Linked DNA regions of Homo sapiens: region 1 is linked to region 2. The links come from fine-mapping of genetic effects on plasma protein levels. Region 2 holds a variant in brackets. A gene starts in the other region. All regions are shown on their reverse strands.

Region 1 (2,500 bases), not on the chromosome of region 2:
AAAAGAAAAAGAGAGAGATGAAACAGCAGAGTGTATGCAAAAACAGCTTTACACCCTGGATTTAAAGGGCTCTACATTCTCATTCAGGAGATTTTTTTGCATTGGTCCTGAAACTTTACACTAAACAAGCTTATCCCCACACAGGCTTTCCTAAGCCAATAAATAAAGCTATGGAATACCTATTCGTTTTCAGCACTTTCGCTGTTAGCCTGGTTACCAACATTGCTCCCTTTTCCCTCTGGTTTTGCGTATCACTGAATAGTTTCTTTTCTCAGTCATACTCATTGAGCTGGATACCTGGACTTAGACATCATTGCCTGACAGCATCTTTCCCCTAATAGGTTACTTTCCACACATTCTAGTTATTCTTAATCCTAGACACTCACGGATTTAAGAAATGTTGAAAATTAAGATAGCTTATTCTCCTCCAATCCCTAATCTAGGCTTCACTTGCCTAGAACTGGTATCCCTAATGTGCTAAAGGTAGCAATGGGAGAGATTATAGGTGCCCTGATTTTGAGGGAAAAGAGGGGCAATTTTACAAATGCCAGAGTTAGTACTAATGGTGAACCCTTCTCAAGTGCCCTGAAGCTAATTTGCATATACTTCTTTTCTGTATTTCATTTTCAAATATCCCCCAGATTGTAATTTGCCGTGATTTTATTTTTCAGTGATTTCATGCTCATTTACTGGTACACTGAAAGTTTGAATATCAAAGCGTATATCTGTATGAATAGGTTGACCCTGTACATAAGTCATCATATGCAGCAAGGGTCAGACACTACACATAACCGGGGTGACAGCCCCATCAGTCCCTGATTTAATGACATGTTTGCATAATATGACTATACTAGAGAAAGTTTGCATAGTGGGACTATATTGCTGAGCAAGAAGAATGTGCCAATTAGAAACAATCCAGGAGACATCCCTATCAAAGGTGAAAAGTATTGTAGATGTATCAAAGATGAATTTCAGCAGGACCATAACCTGATGAGACTCATCAAAGTAGGAAACTGCCTTTAGAAAACTTCCTTTGAAATACCTGAATTCTTGAAAAAGTCCCTCAAATATTGATGTGTACTATCTGCAGCTTGTGGAACTGAATCAAACTATATTTAAAAAGGAGCATCTTTAATTTTCTCAGACTTCATAGAAAAGGAAATGGAGACTGGTCACTAGAGGGTTCTTCTTCCTTCTACTTCTGCTGAAGGGTAACTTCCGATATCAACTTCCTCAAACCTCTGATGAGCTGCTGCTGCTCGACTCTGAGGTGCATTCTTTTTTTGATGAGAGGCATCTCTAGGTACCATCCCTGACCTGGTCCTCATGCTGCCGAGGCTGTTGCTGTTGATCTGTGGTGAGTTGGGCAACTCAGAGCAGGGCATGGGATGCAATCATGCTTGGGCTCTGCTTCCTGAAGGGCTGTAAGGACTTCTTAGGACTAAGGTTCTGTCAGGTAATGCTCAGGGGTGCTCAGATCTCCACTTCCACGGAGGGCTCAGAGTCAGGCAAAAAGTTGTAGATATTTCAAAAAGCCAGAGTTTTCAAGAAAACTATCATTTCAGTTTTTATCTCATAGGAAGTGTTCACTGTCTGTCTTCCTTTCCATCAATAATTGTCTTTGTTCTCAGTGTTTTCAACAGCTGCCAAAAGAAAAATCTGTATAATAAATAGGCCTCTGAATTCCTTGCCCTTCTTACTACCAACGTTATTTCCTTTTATCCCTCTCTGACTCCCCATTCCCACAGTCAAACCTTAGAACTTATCATCACTCCTTTGTTTTCAGCATACATCCCCCACCCCCACTAAGTTGTGTTTCTAGCTCACTTTCTCCTGCACTCTATTTCCAACATGACTTCAATTACCCCAGGGCTACTTTTCCATTATCAGTAACTACACTTCATGTGCTCACTTCTCATGGTGCTCAGCTCAGATTCTGCAGCTCACCACCACAACACTCCCTCGAGCACACCTTCATCTCTCTTCCCCCATAGCACTCTCCTGGTTTACACGCCCTTCTGCATGCTTCACTCCTGGACATAAACAGCTGAATGGGATTTTTTTTTAAATGCACAACCCTGATGACTTATCCCCTTTTAAGTGTAGGACCCCCAAATCTCAGGTAGCCAACAGCAATGCCAGGCAATTATCCTACATGTTCACAGTCCATGTTGCTCCATTATCACTATTGCATACCTTATCCTGTCACCTCATACTTCTCTGTTCACTCTCATTGTGTAATCTTGCTTCATATTTCATTGAGAAAATAAAAGCAGTCAGAAGAAAACTCTCTCATCTTTCTGTTGCTGTTGACCTACTCACCTCTGCATTCACATACACTGCCTTCTCTTCCCCTACCACGAATATATTGCCCCTCATCTTGTTGATGACAAGACTCTCCACTTGTGCATTAGGCCCATGACCCTCTTACTTTCTCAAAAAGTTTGCTCCATCATCAATATGTTTCTTCATTCTAAATTATTCCCATAAGTATACAAAC
Region 2 (3,024 bases):
GCTTTGGCAGTGACATCAGGCCAAGGTTGTGGCTGTGGCTGGGGCCAAGGCTCTGGAGCTCATAGAGGTAAGTCTGAGAACAAGGAGTCGACGCCTATCACTAAGTTAAACCATCTGGCCAAAGATGTGAAGATCAAGTCCTGGGAGAGCTGTCTTCTCTCTGCCCATCAAGGTGTCTGAGATCATTGACCTTTTCCTGGAGTCGTCTCTCAAGAATGGGGTTCTGAAGATTATGCTGGCACAGAAGTTGACCCATGCTGGCCATTTCACCAGGTTCAAGGTGTTTGTTGCCTTTGAGGACTACAATGGCCATGTTGTCTGGGTATTAAGCACTCCAAGGGGGTAGCCACTACCATCCAACGGGCCATCATCCCAGCCAAGCTCTCCATTGGACCCGCACAGAGAGGCTACAGGGGGAACAAGATCAGCAAGCCCCACACCAGCCTTTGCAACGTGACAGGCCACTGGCTCTGTGCTGGTGTGTGTGCCTCATCCCTGCCCCCAGGGGCACTAAGCATCATCTTGGCCTCTGTGCCCAAGAAGCTGCTGCTGATGGCTGCTACGCCTTGGCCAGGGACCGCACTGCCACCCTGGGCCACCTTTGATGCCATCTCTAAGACTGCTAGCAACTGGATCCCTGACCTCTGGAAAGAGACTGTATTCACCAAGTTTCCCTACCAGGAATTCACTGACCATCTCTCAAGACCCACACCAGAGTCTCTAAGCAGAAGACGCAGGTTCCAGCTGTGGCTACAACGTACGGTTTTCTTACCAGAAAAATGAAATGAATGAAGCCTGTTAAAAATAATAATAATAGTTAAGACTTGGGAGAGTCAGCAGATTTCACGCCTCCCTTAAATGTTGCAGCCTTGTCTACTTCAGTGTGATAGGCCTTGGAATTATTAGCTGCATTCTTCTCCCCTGATTTTATGTTGTATCTCCCCCTTCTTGGCCACATGTAATTGTTCTTTTGAGAAGAGTCCTCTTGAGCCTGTGACCAGCCTCATTAACCGTACACTTCTGGTGAGTGGTCCCCAGTGGGGGAGCTGTCAAGCTGAGTTTTGCCATCCTTTCCAGGGCCGCCCGTCAGACCATGGAGGGACAGGCCCCAGTCGAGTATATATGACCCTTTTGCGGGAATGAAAACGCCAGGCCAGCGGCAGCTTATCACCCTCCAGGAGCAGGTGAAGCTGGGCATTGTCAACGTGGATGAGGCTGTGCTCCACTTCAAAGAGTGGCAGCTCAACCAGAAGA[A/G]ACGATCGGAGTCCTTTCGTTTCCAGCAGGTAACTAGCTTCGTATGGAATTTGTTTCATGTCTATTTCCCCACTTGACAGTAGAGGAGGGCTGGGCCATGGCTGTCTTGTGTATTGCTGTACCTGGACACCTGTGGCTGTGCCTGCGAATGTTTGAGTTTCATTGTGAACCAGTGAGTGTGTATGAGTGTCACCTCGGTCTGTAACCACATGGCTCCCTGGCTGAGAGCTGGGTAGCTTTTCCAGGTACCATGAGGCTTGAGATCAGGAACAAAGACTCAACTACAAACACTAACTCTGCTGCTGTGTCTCTCTGCATTTGGCTCCCTGCTTCTGCTTTCCAGCTTTTTTCTTTTCAGAGTCTCTCTCTCTCTATTCCTACTGCCAAATACCCTCATAACTATCACACTTTATGACTCAAAGAGAACTTGGAAAACTCCCAAGAAATATGATTAAATGAACAAAACAAGTTGCAGATACAAAACCACCCAAATTAAAACAACTCAGACACGTCCACACACAAACTCTGTATTTCTATGGACATGTATATAAATGCAAGGACAAAGATCTGGAAACGGCCACTTCGGGCCCATTCCAGGGGCCACCTCTCAGGAGAAGACTGGGATTGGAGGACTGGGGTGTCAGAGGAGACTCTTGCTCTACCTGTATAGTTTGAAGCTTTTATGAGAATATATAACTCCATACCTGTATCATAAGTGTACATGATGTATAATTAAAAACAAAAAAAGAACTCAAACTTAACCTTAGGAAGCTCATTCTTAGTCCACCAATGCCTTTGTATTAAAAAGGAGGAAATGGGGCTCAGGAGGTTAAGGGACACGTCCAAGGCATCTTTCCTAGTGAGGGGCCGAGTCAGGACTGGAACTATTGCTTTCTCTCTCCACCTCCCCAGGCTGCTTCCTTCAAAGTACTAGCCAGGCCCGACCCTGCTTACCCTCAGAGATCAGATGGGATTGGGCGCGTTCAGGGTGTTATGGCTATAGACCCTGGTGGTGTGTATTCTAATCTCTGTTCTTACGCTATCTGACATACCAGCTGTCAAGGCGGGGAGTAAGCAGCACCCGTCCAGGGCTGAGATAGGAGCCTGTCTTCTGGGACAGGATTAGTGGTGAAGAGTGGGGAAGCATGTCATCAGGCCGCATTTGCTGACCTCCGACAGTGCTATGTTAGGCATTGTGCTCAGCGTTAAATAGACCTGATCTCTTTCACTCCTCATACACGCATATGAAATAAGTATTACTCCTCCTGTTCTACAGAAAACTGAGGCTCAGAGAGGCGAAGAGGCAGTCAAGGTTCAAACCTCCCCTTTCTCACCCCAGAGCCTGTGCTCCCTTCACTATGCCTTCTGCCTTTTTAGTGCTCCTTAAGACAGGGGCACCTGCTCTGCCAGCTGCCTCCCTCCCTTTTGGGGCCTGAAGGGTGGGAGGGCACTCTGGAGAGCTGAATGCAGGAATCACGGGTGCTTTTCACTCAGGAGCCCCTGGGAGGCTGCAGTCCTGCTGAGAAAAGGCTGGCCCTGGCTAAACAATGTTTTTTTGCTCCTTGCCAAGTTGTGCAACCACGTGGCACAGTAGTTAAGAACAGCCAGGGCTCTAGAGCTGGCAGCCTGAATTTACATCTTTATTCTGCTATTTGATGACCTTGACCTTGCTGTGCCTCATATGAAAGGGGAGGACTAGGTGATATAAGCTACTGTAAGCAGCATAACTGGTACGTAGTAAATACATAATAAATGTTAGCTCTCTTTCTT

Alleles and levels. Positions count from the first base shown, and alleles are read on the strand shown. Strength reflects both the effect of a copy and how common the allele is.
With allele G in place of A in region 2, the plasma level of the protein whose gene starts at base 1,244 in region 1 is lower (weak association).

Evidence for each region. PIP is the chance, under the fine-mapping model, that this variant and not a neighbour inherited with it causes the effect. Protein levels are from antibody-based Olink assays in UK Biobank. Linkage for the fine-mapping came from a reference panel and not from the study's own genotypes, which makes the PIPs less certain.
Region 1: it holds the start of FCRL1, and the variant in region 2 is fine-mapped to the plasma level of the FCRL1 protein (UK Biobank, PIP 0.97).

The regions. Positions count from the first base shown.
Region 1 is chr1:157,818,864-157,821,363 of GRCh38, reverse strand. FCRL1 (Fc receptor like 1) reads left to right here and starts at 1,244. Exons shown (of 11, transcript NM_052938.5): 1 at 1,244-1,357. The coding sequence starts at 1,327.
Region 2 is chr10:96,618,611-96,621,634 of GRCh38, reverse strand. PIK3AP1 (phosphoinositide-3-kinase adaptor protein 1) reads left to right here. Exons shown (of 17, transcript NM_152309.3): 12 at 1,078-1,283. It also overlaps the pseudogene RNA5SP324 and the pseudogene RPS2P36. Among named protein-coding and RNA genes, the nearest start is that of TM9SF3, 33 kb to the right of the region's middle. The variant A/G (reference allele first, on the strand shown) is at 1,255.